Homo sapiens: one gene and its partner. The protein of the gene in region 2 interacts with the protein of the main gene of each other region in a pairwise test. Each region holds a gene or a part of one and is shown on either strand. Other genes may lie near its edges.

Region 1 (7,027 bases), on a different chromosome or scaffold from region 2:
TGGTACACACATATGACCTATATATGATATATGTATATTGTATATACATTATATGTACATAGAAGATATATGTATATTGTATATACAATATATGTACATATATATGTACATATATATAAAACATATATATTACCTCTTCTCTAAGAAGTGCCTTTGTATTCATTATTCATTTTTAGTTTGCGATGCATCAGCTACAAATCGATAGTATATGAGCCCTCAGACTTACCAGGGTGTACTACTCATGTAGGTATTATAAATATTGTCATACAAATGAATTAGTAGGTTACAATAACCAAGTTTTAGAGTTGAGAGAACCACAACTGGACAACACAAATATTCATTAAATAAAACTTTTTAAAGCAATTACCGTGTAAAATTGTAAAAGTTGCATTTAAAAGCTCTCTCATAGTTGGAGAAGCAAGTCATGAGATTGTTTTAAAAAGCATCTACATAAAGAGACGGGGCAGCCTGAACTAGGGCAGTCACAGGAGTAATGAAAGGCGATGGACAGTTTCAAGGCAACATGTAGGAGACATCACGGACAGGGCTTTGCAATTCACTGGATGAGGAGGGGGAAGAAGAGGATGTCAATCAAGGGTGATGATGCATTCCACTATTCACCTACCAATTTATGATTATGAAGATCAATAAGAAAATTATAAATACACAGATAATGACTCCTATGGTCAGCACAAAAATTAGGGCTGCATCAGTGGCTGGTAGGCTTGATCTTCTCATCTGCAATTCTAGAGAAAACACACAAACCTAAGGAGTATTACTACTGAGGAAAAGGAAATGAATATCTAACTTAAAAGTTTATATTTGAAAAACAACTCTAGAAACATAAAGAAATGCTTAGTGCAGAGAAAATTATTAATGATCTTGCTCTGCATGTTTGAAATGTCCTTTTCAAACATGAAAAAAGTTAAAAGAATTTGACAACGAACAGCCTGTATTACCACCATCTAAATACTACCATTAATATTTTAAAATTCATCTATCCATTCCTCTATCAATTCATTAATCCATCTTATTTTTATGCATTTCAATATAATTTGCAAATGTCAGTACACTTCCTCAAAAATTTTTCAGCAAGCATATCGTTAACTGGAGTTTAATATTAGTTTTTTCTTTGAAATAAAATTTTCACACAAAGAATTGCACAAAGATCTTAAATGTACATTTGCTTAGTTTTGACAAAGGCAAACTCATATATGTAACTAAATGTTAGTCAAGATATAGAATATTACTATACCCCAGAAAGTTCCCTTGAGCCTCTTCCTAATTAACTCCTTCCTCATCCTCCAGAGGCAACAAGCATCCTGATTTTCTTTTCCACCATAGATTAGCTCTGACTATTCTAGAACTACATATAAATTGAAACACACACTAGGTAATCTCTTGTGTAAAGATTTGTTTACTTAGAATAATGTTTTAGAAATTCACCCATACTGTTATATGCAACTATCATTTTTTTATTATTACTAGGTATACTCCACAATTTGTTTACTCATCCTCCTACTGATGGATATCTAGGCTGTTCCAGTTGTGAGATACTATAAATAAAGCTGCCATGAACATTCTTATACAAGTCATTTTGTGAATATATATCTTAATTTTTGGCTAAATGTCTAATAATAGAATTGCTGGGTCGTAGGGTAGACAGATGTGTGTTTAGCTGTCTAAGAAACCATGAGAACTTTCTCAAACTGATTGTACTGACTGTACAGGTTTTATAAATGTTTTCTACCAGATTTTGGCTTGCCTATTCATTATCCTAATGATTTTTGTTAATGAGCTGAAGTTTTTAATTTTGATGCAGTCTGATTTATTCAATGTTTCCTTTTATGGTGATTGTTTTCTGAATTATGTCTAAGAAACGTTTGCCTACTCCTGAATCATGCAAATAGTCTCCTATATTTCTTTCCTAAAACTTTATGGGTTTAGCTTTTACACTTAAGACTATGATACCTCTCTAATTTTTATATTTGCTGTAAGAAAGGAATTGAAGCTCATTGTTTTCTATACACATATCCACATACCCCGACCCCTCTCTCTTTAGGAAATGGGGTCTTGCTATATTGCCCAGGCTGGCCTTGAACTCCTGGGCTCAAGTGATCTTCCCACCTCAGCCTCCCTAGTAGCTAGTATTATAGGCACACACCACTGTACCCACCTCATGCACCACTCTTACCTCAAGCATTCTCTCCCATGTCTCTCTGCTCTTTCAGCAAATAAGGTTATCAAAGAGACAAAGCCAATCTACCGTATGTATTACAGTATTGCTACATTGTAAACTAGTAAAAAGCCAATTAACATAGAATATTACTTACTTTGTGAATTACATAGCTTTATTGTATCTCTTTTATGACCCCAAATTCTGGAATCATAAAAGATTCATGGAAGAAAGAACTACAGAGATCATCTGATCCAACTATTGCATTATACAGATAAGTAAACCAAGGCCCAGGGAGGTTTAATTTGTACAAGGTATATTTTGACTATTTAAATACTTTGATTTTGATAAGTACTACTCTGTCAGAACTAGTCTTCTATATGAGCAATCTCAACTGCTTATTTTTCTGGATTTGTTTCCCTATCTGTTAGACATCATGGAGTATAAGTTTCCATTTTGCCTAGTAATTCTAGAGCTATAAACTCAAGTTAGGGATCTCGCTAAATAGTTCCAAGTATGCTAGAGAAAATACATCTATATTTACGTTCCAACATTGTTGGATTTTTAAAAATCTTTTTATTTCAAAATAACTTTAGATTTACACAAGTGGTGGCATTTTGGAAACTTAAATAAAAAACACCTTTCAGAACTGACACCTGACAAGGAGAAATGCAAATTTCATTTATCCATTACTCTGCAATGTTAGCTGAGAGAGGGTGGAGAGTGAGGGGCATGAAGATTTTATTTATTACAACAGTAGTCTTGCAAGGGTCACCTAGACTATTTTTACAGGTAATGAAAAAAATAGGCTCAATTTCCTATTGAAGTATTTAATGAAAAATAGGCTAAATTTGATGCTCTCACCTTTTAGATAAACTAAGCTTATGTACTTATTAGTTTCCTAGGACCACCATAACAAAGTACCACAAACTGGGTGACGAAAACAACAGAAATGTATTGTCTCGCAGTTTTGGAGGCTAGAAGTCTGAAAACAATGTGTTGGCCGAGCCATGCTCTCACTGAAGGTTCTTGGGGAGGATCCTTCCTTGTCTCTTACAGCTTCTCAGCTTCTGGTAGGCTCAGAAATTCCTTGGATTCTGGTAGCATAACTCCAATTTTTGTCTCCATTTTCACATGGCTGTCTTCTCCCTATGTCTGTTTCTCTGTGTCTTCACCTGGCATTCCGCGCCCCACTTTCCATCTGTGTTTGTGTGTGTGTGTGTGTGTGTGTGTGTGCGCACAAGCATGCCCAAATATTCCTCTTCTTATGAGGGCACCAGTTATATTGGATTAAAGGCCCACTCTGCTCTAGTACAACCTCATCTTAACTAATTACATCTGTAAAAAGTCCTATTTCCAAATAGAGTCACATTCTGAGTACTTCAAAGTATCTTTTTTAACAATGCCTAATTATGAAAGACAACTATTGTGGGAGTGAAAAATCTGATATTTAAGTGAATGGATGAGAATTTTTCACTAGGGAAACCATATTTACCCTAAAAATATCTCAATTACATATTTGTTTCATGCTAGTACCATATTGTGTAGACATTTCTAGCCAAAACATTTGTTTGATTTCTAATCAGCCAAAGGGGTCTGTTGCAGTGGTGTACCCAATTGTCATGTTTAAAGAAATTAGTAGATACTGGAGTGTTTTTAAAATATTTTGTCATTCAATCAGTGCACGTACTGAGATGGCAGAGCTATCCCACCATTCCTGGACTGCTGCTATGAGAGAGAGAAGTTAACTTTGTCTCAATAAAGGCCTGACATTTTAGGGTCTGTGCTCCAGCCTTTAACATATACATTACCAAATGCATGCTCCCTTCTAATTATGAGAGGAGTTAACCACACTGAATTGTCCTAACAGGGACGAGATAGTAGGACAAAGACTGAGAATGGCTCCACACACCTTTAATATCATGAACGAGGGCTAGTTGAGATATTTTTTAGTTTAATGATGTTTTTATTCTCTTGCCTTTTTTAGAGCTTTATTGAAAATGATCCTTTTAACGACACCTGATATCCCAATAGAGGAATAAGATTATTAGCTTTCACCATGAAGATGTTTCTAAACTCATTAAACAGCATATCAAAGGAAGTTTAAATAGTAGTTTATTTTTTAAAATCACCCTAAAATATTTTAACCTGTTTTCATTTCAATAAAATGGTTACGTTGTGCGGTATCTTTAAACTACAGCAGAAGCTCTTTGTGTTCAGAAATAGCTTCAAGAAGTCCAAAAACTCCTTTAAAGTTACATGCAACTTTTGGCATATTTGTGTATGTGGACATTTTTCTGGAAAAAGGATCCTGAGCCTTGATAGGATTCTGAAAAGAACTTGTGACCAAGTCCCCACATCCCTAACAACAAATTTGATAACAACAATTAGAACAGTTAAGAGCAGCTGAACAAAAGGAAATAATTACCTGGATATGTAAGCCATCATAGATTAAACTGAATATAGGCAAATGGATCTATCTCACAAGGAAAATATGGTTTCTAATACATAAAATGACATTCAGGACAACATTTGCATTTTGTGATATATACATTTTTGAGAACTGTATTAGTGCTTCATCAAAAAACATTTGTTTCAAATATATAATTTTTAAAGAGTCATACTTTGACATCGTATTTCTTAATTTTATTTACTTTACTGAATGAAAATTTTCATAAGCATCCATGAGAATTCCATTTATCCATTTTCACTTTTATAATGAAAGTAAAAGCAAGAATATAATTCAAGTTAGAGGACTGTTCTCTGAAAACACTTAAGAAATACACCAGTTTCCCAAAGTGAGGAAATTGTGACTACTTTGTGAAAAAGAAATTAAGTAGTATCTTTTAGAAAAGTCTAAATGATGTAAACCAGTGGTTCTCAAAGTGTGGTCTCTGGACCAGCAGCAACAGGGCAACTTGTTAGAAATGGAAATTCTTGTTCCAGTCCCATCCCAAATCTACTGAATCAGAAACTCTGGGGGGAGGGCTAGAGACTGGTGTTTTAACAAGCCTCTAAGTGATTTTAATGCTCTTTAAAGATTGGCATATAAGCAAACCAAGACATTGCTGGACACTTACCACTGCTCGTATAGACTGTGAATTTAATAGTTGCTACTATTTCATTATTATCCAGTGTGTCACACTCGAAAGCCAAGGGGTGACTTTCCTTGCGTACTTCTAGGATTGCTGAATCATTTACAAGTATAATGGATTGCTATTTAAAAAGAAAAAAATAACAAAGTATCAACATTTTTCATGTACACTTACCAGGAAACAATTTATTTCCCTTAAGGAAAGGAGGGTTACTGTCTCTCTTAGCCTAGTTGAGTAATTAATGATCTACATGGATTTTCAGTCACACAATCCAGACTTCAAATCCCAACCCTACCACTTCCTGCCTGTGTGACTGTGGACAAGTTAGTTACTTACTTGTAAAAATGGGTTTAATGATAGTGATTACCTCAGAGAATTGTTATATGGATGAAAAAAGGCTCTAGCACTCAGTGTCATGTCTGGCACTTAATAAACCCTTAATTAATGTTAGCCACTGCTATCATTATACAACTCCTATATAAGCCAATGAAAACCTTCCTTCCGAAATGGAATACTTTGTGTAAAATAGACGTTTTAAAGTTCTGATTATAGCTGGCCCTTAGACTTATGTAAAGTTTAGTCCTAGTAAATAATGAAAATTTTAAAATTCCAAAATAATAAAGTTGTATAATTCTTAACTTCGTTTTGGCAAACTGCTTTTAAAAAGAAAGTTTTCTGAAAGCCATCAGAACTGAGAAACAAATTTTATCACTCACTAGAAAGCACCAGGTTATATCCATTCATTACTCACTTGGTCTTGTCTTAGAAGTTTCCACATATATTTGAAACGATTTAAGGGAGATGTGTGAATACATGCCAATCTAACACTTTCAAGACTTTCTGAAATTGGTTTACCCCCTGAAAAAAAATTAAGCACATAAATACCATTGGGCATTATAAATTGCTTTATACACGAAATTACTTTTTTTTTTCCTGAGACAGGATCTGGTTCTGTCACCCAGGCTGGAGTAGAGTGGCATGATCTTGGCTCACTGCAATCTCTGCCTCCTGGGCTCAAGCCATCCTCCCACCTCAGCCTCTCAAGTGGCTGGGACTACATGCACATGCCACTGTGCCTGGCTAATTAAAACAAAATTTTGTAGAGATGGAGGTTTCACCATGTTGCCCAGCCTGGTCTCAAACTCCTGAGCTCAAGTGATCCTCCTGCCTCGGCCTCCCAAAGTGCTAAGATTACAGGTGTCACAATACTACTTTAAAAAGCAACCTCCAGTTTTAAAAATCAACTATATGCTGGAAGTTATCAAACATAATTAGGAGTTTGAGTGTAGAGGAACAGAAGACTGATAGGTGCAAAGATAAAGTCACCAAAAGAAGCAGGTGAGGAGACACCATGGCTCTCTGCTCCTTATGCAGAATAAGTTGTAATTGACCTACTGATCTGTTAGACTAAACTATGAGATCTATTAGTGGCTTCCAATGTACTGGTTAGGGACTCCCATTAGAGATACTGAAATTTCAGAACAGCATAATGTGATATGGAACAGCTGTCAAAGTTCCCATTTTAAAGTCTACCAATCTACTGACAAAATGACATGACCAAAGCATCAAAAGCATTTCGCCACAGGACAGCCTCAACTATAGACCCTATATACAGTAAGCCTCCAGTGTATTATAGAGAATATATGTTCAATTTTAGATGTCTCTGAAAAAATGTGAAGCAAAATCAGAAAGTTGCTCAGAACTATAACTGTTTGAAGAAGTGGAATTTAAAATTTTATGATTTCCTTTGAGTATG
Region 2 (7,027 bases):
CTCCCTGGGGCTTCTGTTTAGGGGCACAGGGTCCCCTGTGTGTCCTGTTTCCCTCCAATGGGTCTTGGAGTAATACAACGAGGAGAGCCTTTATGGTCTATAAGACCTTACAGGGCAAGGGTGATGGTGCTGGTGTCTGGATAGCGGATAAGGGCGGCCCAGTTCTCGCCTTGCTGAAGAGGCGTTGACTCTGGGACACACTGGCAAAACAGTCCCTGTGGCGGACATCCCGAGAGTGTTGGACTCCTGTGGTTCCCCAGTTCCCAGCCTCCTGCCATCGGCTTAATTCAAACCCTCTGGGAGTCATCAGAAATCCTTGTTTATTTCTTCCAGTGCATTCCAGAGTTTCTTTGAATGTGATGCTTGTGGAGAGGAACAGAGGGGCCTGGGATTGGGTACTTTCCAAACTGGGTTATTGAAACGTTGTCTCCCTGGCCCAAGACTCTGCCTAAAATGGTCCCCAGAGTCTCAGCCAGATCTTTCACAGCCATGCATGTCCTCTAACAGGTCATCCCAGCCTTCAGTTCCCCCAAAGTTTAAAATGAGGGGCGAGGACCGCATTACTTGGGATAAATGTCCTGCCGGCTCTGACCGGCTGAAATTCTCGGACTCAGCCTTTTACCCTCTGTCTCTCTCTCCCGTCCGCTGGACATCTACTCCCTTCGGTCCAGGCTCCTGGGCTCCTGTCCCACCGCACCCAGACCGGAGCTCAGGCTTGTTGGGGTTCGTGTCCTGGCTTTGAGTGCCTGGGGTGCAGACTGGACCCCTAGGCGAGCACGTGGGTCTAGCGCAAGAGCAGAATGCCCCCTGACCCCAGGGGCTGCCTGGGGAAGCGCGCGGTGGACGGGAAGCGCAGGGTCCGGGCAACCCTCTCGAGCCATTCTTTTCTTTCCACACTACTCTGGCTCTGCACCACCTCTCCGGAGCCGCCAGAGTCTGCGCGAGGCTGAGCTGGGGCCAGGACCGTTCCTCTACGCTGGCAGAGTTGGGTGGAAACTTGGAGACAAACGGAATGCGGAGAGCACTGGGGTCTGGGAAACCAGCCTCCTCGCCGCTGTCTCCCCCACCGCATGCCACGGCTGTCTCCAGGTCTCAGACGGAAATCTGGGCACCTACTCCCCTCACCCCTACCTCCACCCCATAGGGGAATTCACCATCTGAACCGGGGTCTCGGAGAACGTGACCTCTCACCTTCCAGGGAGGTCGCCGGGAGGTGCTTGGGGTGGGTGGAAGCGTGCAGTGGCCTCTGCTCATATTTTCTGGAAACCCCTCCGTTCCCTGGGTGGTTTTAGACGTGCGAACCGCTTGTTTTGTTTCCAAAAGCAAAAGATGTTCCGTTGCAGGCGGGCCCGGCTGGGCGCTGGGCACTGGGCGCTGGTCCTGCAGGCGGCTGCTGCCCCCTCTCGGCGGCAGGCGGCGCGAAGGCTCCTGACCCGCGCGGGCGGTCGGGCTGCGGGCGCTGGGCCAGGCCGGGCCTTCCGCTAGTGCGCGGGACCCTCCCTCTGCGCGCGCCTCCGTCGCTCGGCCCAGTGCGTTCGGCCTCACGCCCAGCGCTCTCCTCGCAGGCAGAAACTCCGCTGAGCAGAACTTGCCGCCAGAATGCTCCTCCTGTTGCTGAGTATCATCGTCCTCCACGTCGCGGTGCTGGTGCTGCTGTTCGTCTCCACGATCGTCAGCGTGAGTGCCTGGCGGGGAGGCTCCCTGCGCGGCCCGCCCTTCCCCATCTGGGTTCCCAGCCCGTGCTCCTGCTGGTTCAGGACTGTGTTATTTGCAGACAGTTGGAAGTCTCAGACGTCCCAGGGAAGTTTCTGGCAATCTGCCCCCTTCCAGTTGCTTTGAGAAAACGAGAGCAGATTCAGTGATAGGAACCAAGCGAGCGCTGGGCTGGGTTAGCTGCGCAGGTCTCTATTTAAGCCAAGTAACTTCAGAGCCGATCTAGGGTCCCCGACCTTCATTTGACAAGATTGTTTAACTTTTTTTTTTCTTGATGCAGCCTCGTTGAAGAAGAGGAGTATTTATGATTTTTTTTTCTCCAAACCATAGTCAGATGGGTGAATTAATTTATAAAACACCCTTTTAGGACTTGAAATTGGAAAGTTAAAATGGGCTTTTCTGGAAAAGAGTTCACAGGTCCCATGTCGGCTTTATGGCATGAACACAACACATTGTTAGTAAAGCTTCCACTGGTAGGAACAGGCCATCAGAGTAACTTCTGTTACAAAACTGTCCAGCCCATTAGATCTTAAAGTTATTTTCTTGGCGATGAAGATGAGCAGACATTCAGGCAGTTTTCCAGTGGTGGCTTTCACTTCTTAATTTAAGGCACATTGTAAGCATGATTTTCTTTTTCGTTTTCTTTTCTTTTCTTTTCTTTTTTTTTTTTTTTTTGAGATGGAGTCTCCAGCCTGTCACCCGGGCTGGAGTGCAGTGCCATGATCTTGGCTTACTGCAACCTCTGCCTTCCGGGTTCAAGCCATTCTCCTGCCTCAGCCTGGGATTACAGGTGCCCGCCACCACGCCTGGCTAATTTTTTTTTTTTTTGTATTTTTAGTAGAGACGGGGTTTCACTATGTTGGCCAGGCTTGTCTCAAACTCCTGACCTCATGATCCGCCCACCTCTGCCTCCCAAAGTGCTGGGATTACAGGTGTGAGCCACCGTGCCCGGCCTGTAAGCATGATTTTCTAGTCTCTGTGAGAAATAATTATGTTGGGGATTTGTGACTTAGTTTAACATTTACAAGCATCTTCACAGTATCTCCATTGTGCCTGGTGATGATGATATCAGACTGATAGGAGCTATAAACAAGGAAATAGACTGAGAGAGGCGGGCTTGGGGAATGATCCCGAGATGCTGGGAGGAGAGAAGGCTTGAATGCAGGTGTCTAAGGTTGAGTTCATGGCTCCTTCTACTATAGTAAACATCTCTGCACATAATCGTTTCTGTGTGCATGTGGAACTTCTCCATTTACAAGGTGCTTTTAAGTCATAAAACGTTGGCTCTTACCATGCAGGGGTGGGCGGTGTGGCTAGGTGGATGCGGGTGCTTTTCGCCATCCCTGGGCCTTTCTCCTTCCCCTTTTCCTTCACTCCTCCCTCCCTCCCTGACTCAGGATATCTATCTGATTCTCTCTAGCAATGGATCGTGGGCAATGGACACGCAACTGATCTCTGGCAGAACTGTAGCACCTCTTCCTCAGGAAATGTCCACCACTGTTTCTCATCATCACCAAACGGTGAGGCTGGTTTTGTGCTCCATGAGCTTGTCCTCAGACGCCTGTAACACGTTTCTCAGCCCAGAGCTGGAAACGCTTATTGGAAGACACAAGCCAGAATGTCGTTGCTGGGGTGGGGTGGGATGTGACAGGGAGCCATGAGTCCAGGGAAAATGGGAGGGGTGGTGATCTCGCTGGGGAAGCTGAGATCCTGGGCATCATTGTGATTCACTCTACCTAGAGACATGCCCTTAGTGCCCTCCTGATCACTTAGGATAATGCTTTTTGTGATTGAAAAAAATATCGACCTGGGAGCTGTGAAGGTGGTATGATAGCTAAGCCTTTGGCAGACCCCCTTGGGACATTGGATCAAACGTGTATCTTTGGTTTGGTGGCTGTCTCTATTCAGAAATGTCCTGCCCCTTTCTGCTGCAGTGACAGTGGGGCTAGCTCACTGCACCGTCAGTTACATGGACACAAGACTGGCTGCCTTTCCAGGTCTTGGGCCTCAGTGATGCCACCTAGCATCAAAACCTTTGAATGTTTCCTTGTTGCAAGATGGGGACTTGAAGCTATTTGCAAAACCCTAAGCTAAGCCTTGGGGTCCTTAATCCAGAAGATCGTATTTCTCCTCTGTCCTCAGCATCTTTGCTTGTGAGATATGGAAGCCAGGCTTCATGAGGGTCAAATTAAGGGATAATTGGCAGCAGAAGCACCAACTAGGTACCCAAGGCACCCAGAGGGAAAGGAACACCCAGCCAGGAGCCCTGTGTGTTTGGATGCAGACAGGTGGAGGTAAACAGGATGAGCTGTTTTGGTGGCTGGGTAGGCCATAGCGATTGATGTTAAGAGCCCGTGGACCTGGATCCACATGATCTTTTGTTCCAGAAGATGTGTCCTCAGGCTGGAAGGACCTAGAGATACAGCAGAGCTTTCCTAACATCCTGGGTTTAAAAGGCCACGGAAATACAGCTTTAAATGTTGCTGGAGCTACTCATAGATCCAGTATATATGTTCAAGATGCTACACCAGACGAGAGAAACCAGTTTAGATCCAGTTCAGTAAAACAGGCAGTGAAGTGGCCTTTGGTCCTGGCTTTGCATAATCCAGTTGCTTTGCTGGACTTTCCCTCTTACAGCTCAGTACCCAGTAATACCCAAGCATGTCCCCAGCTGAAGCATTATAAACCAAATTCCTTGAACCACAGTACAAATAGAAACTGCTAAAATAATAATTTGGTAATTTACATGGAGAAGATACGCAAGGAGTAGAAAACCCTGCTTTATGTTTTTACCTTCTGGGTTGGGGAGGGAGCAGAGAAAAGGTCCCAGTCCTATTGGAGTGAGAACAGTGCTTAATCTTGTCTCTGAGTGTGTGAAAGGCATTGAATTAAAGCCATCCCAGAAATTACGTGGTGGGTTTGCATGGTGAGTTGGCAACTGAGTAAATGAAATACTCATGAGTGCCTGAGAATGTGACCGTAGCACTGCTTGTCCCCAAAGCCACAGCATCCGGTTTCTCCCCCTTTAGGGTCTGGCTGAAGTTCCCGGAGCACTCCGGATGGGAGTCTCCGTACTCGCTACTGACACCTGGTGGTTACAAGTAGTGACTCAGCCCGAAAAGGGCAGGCTTTGGTGCTCACAGGCGCCATCCCCAAGTGGCATCTGGCCACGCGGCTTGGCACAGAATCCTGGACTCTTGGGCCCGGAAGGGGGCAGTTTTGGCAGGCGTGTTAAAACCCGGCGAAGTTTCAGCAGAAACGAGGCGGCAGAGGAGTTGCTAAGTTGTGCTTAAACCATCTGCAGGAAAGAAAGCAATATTGACCTGTAGCATGTTACAGATTGACATTTGGTGTCTTCTGCCGTTGGAAATAGCTGTCAGTTGGTGCTAGAAGCAGATCTCAAAGAGGCACTAGGGTTATTTTAATCAGGAAACTTCTTATCTCTCAACTTGTTCCTTCTGTGCCAAGCTCATGTTCTTGAGTTCATTTACAATGCCTCCTTAGTGTGGGTTTCAAATCTGCCTCGTTGCTTTCCGTGAGGACCCCAGAGTGTCTGTTTTCCACATCTCCCTTCTCAGCTCTCACAATCAGGGCATTTTGAAAACATCTGGACACTGCACCTGAACATGCTGGGTTTGTTTTCACGCCACTCAGGCTTAATCTAAATTTGAAATTTCCATTTACACTTCCCCAGTAGTGGTTATCTCTGCCGCTATCTTCCCCAACGTGGCAGCACTTGCTACGACTTCAGCCTTAAGTGGCGAATCCTCCAGGGCCTCTTTGATTGAGTTTAACAATTGTGGCTGCAGACAATAAGCTGAAAAAAATGTGTACTTTTTAAAACATTATACTGTCTTTACAAATGAACTATGCTCATTGCGAACCATTTAACTTGTCTGTATTTGCTCTTAGAAAGTATATTTGAAAAAAAATACTTGTTAAGTAATCAAAAGTAATTTGTTATTGACATCGATTTGTGAAGAATATGTTGCAAGTGTGAAAAAATAAATAGTGGTGCAATCTCGGCTGACTACAACCTCCACCTCCTGGGTTCAAGCGATTTTCCTGCCTCAGCCTCCCGAGTAGCTGGGATTATAGGCGCCCAACACCACGCCTGGCTAATTTTTGTATTTTTAGTAGAGAGGGGTTTCATCATGTTGGGCAGGCTGGTCTCGAACTCCTGACCTCAGGAGATCCACCCACCTCACCTCCCAAAGTGCTGGGATTAGAGGTGTGAGCCACTGCGCCATGTGACTTGGTATTTTTTTCTGAAAGGACTCATTTTTCTGGTGCATGACCATGACACTTCACCTCTCTCTGGGGGTTGCCACTCATGTTGTTTTCTACATGAATGGGGCCTCCTGGCATCGTGCCATGAGGCAGTCTAACATCTAGGTTGTGTAGTTTGAAAGAGACACACCAGATCTTGCCCCCAGGCTACATCTTAATATTAGAAATAGTTTTAGATTTTTAACTAACTGACTTTGACTCCGCCTGCCTTCTCGTTTTTCTAAATGTGTTTGTATACTTTCTGGCACCCCCTCCTTATCTGCCTCGTGTGGGCAGAGGTAAGAGAGGCTTAGTGTGGGGATATTCGTTATGATATTGTATCCAGTGCCTCTCCGGCCCAGGGAATACAAGGATCTGGAATGCATGGGCCTTGCCTTGATGGTCCCGAGCCTGGTCGAAGAGTCAGGAGATAGATATGGAAGGGTGAATCACTCCCTTGGAAGGCAGAGCAGGCCAGGTGCCCAAAGGGAGGCAGGCAGACAGCGTCTGAGTTCAGGGAGGAAGCGGATGGGAAATCTCTGGTGGGAGGTAGAATCTGATCCATCCTCCAAAGGATGGGCAGGATTTAAGTCAATACAGGCAACGGGGAGGAGAATATTCCCTGTGACCTAAGGTAAGGGTAGAACAAGGCAGGGGATGGGGTAGACTGGTTGGCTAGTGTTCTGGTTAGGATTAGGATTGATTGTGTATAAGAGAACATCTTCAAATGATAGGGGCTTAAGTAAGATCATTTATTTTTCTCTCTTTTCAAAGAAGTCTGGAAGTAGGTAGCCTGAGAGAGGTATGGAGGTTCCATGAAATTGTCAGAGATGCAGACACTTTCTAGCTCATTTCTTTGCCATCTCTTGGGTTTGGCTGTCATCTTCAGGAAACAAAAGGCTGCTAGAGCTCCAGCCATCTCATCCATGATTCAAGCAGTAGGGTGGAGAAAGGAGGTGGGGAAGAATGAATCTCCTTTTCTTTTAATGAAATGTGACATGGTCACACCTACACCTATTTACAAGAGAGGCTGAGAAATATAGTC

What was found. The genes of interacting proteins can lie anywhere in the genome.
Region 1: the proteins of PMP22 (region 2) and SPACA1 interact in binary tests that used the Homo sapiens proteins (3 or more experiments, as listed by UniProt).

The regions. Positions count from the first base shown.
Region 1 is NC_000006.12:88,057,818-88,064,844, reverse strand, and holds part of SPACA1 (sperm acrosome membrane-associated protein 1 precursor), read right to left. Parts: intron 6,130-7,027; coding exon 6,023-6,129; intron 5,393-6,022; coding exon 5,257-5,392; intron 766-5,256; coding exon of another isoform or gene 747-765; coding exon 626-746; intron 1-625. UniProt on the Homo sapiens protein: Plays a role in acrosome formation and establishment of normal sperm morphology during spermatogenesis. Important for male fertility.
Region 2 is NC_000017.11:15,255,300-15,262,326, reverse strand, and holds part of PMP22 (peripheral myelin protein 22), read left to right. Parts: intron 1-1,191; exon of another isoform or gene 1,192-1,368; intron 1,369-1,506; exon of another isoform or gene 1,507-1,565; 5' UTR 1,566-1,599; coding exon 1,600-1,677; intron 1,678-3,133; coding exon 3,134-3,233; intron 3,234-7,027. UniProt on the Homo sapiens protein: Might be involved in growth regulation, and in myelinization in the peripheral nervous system.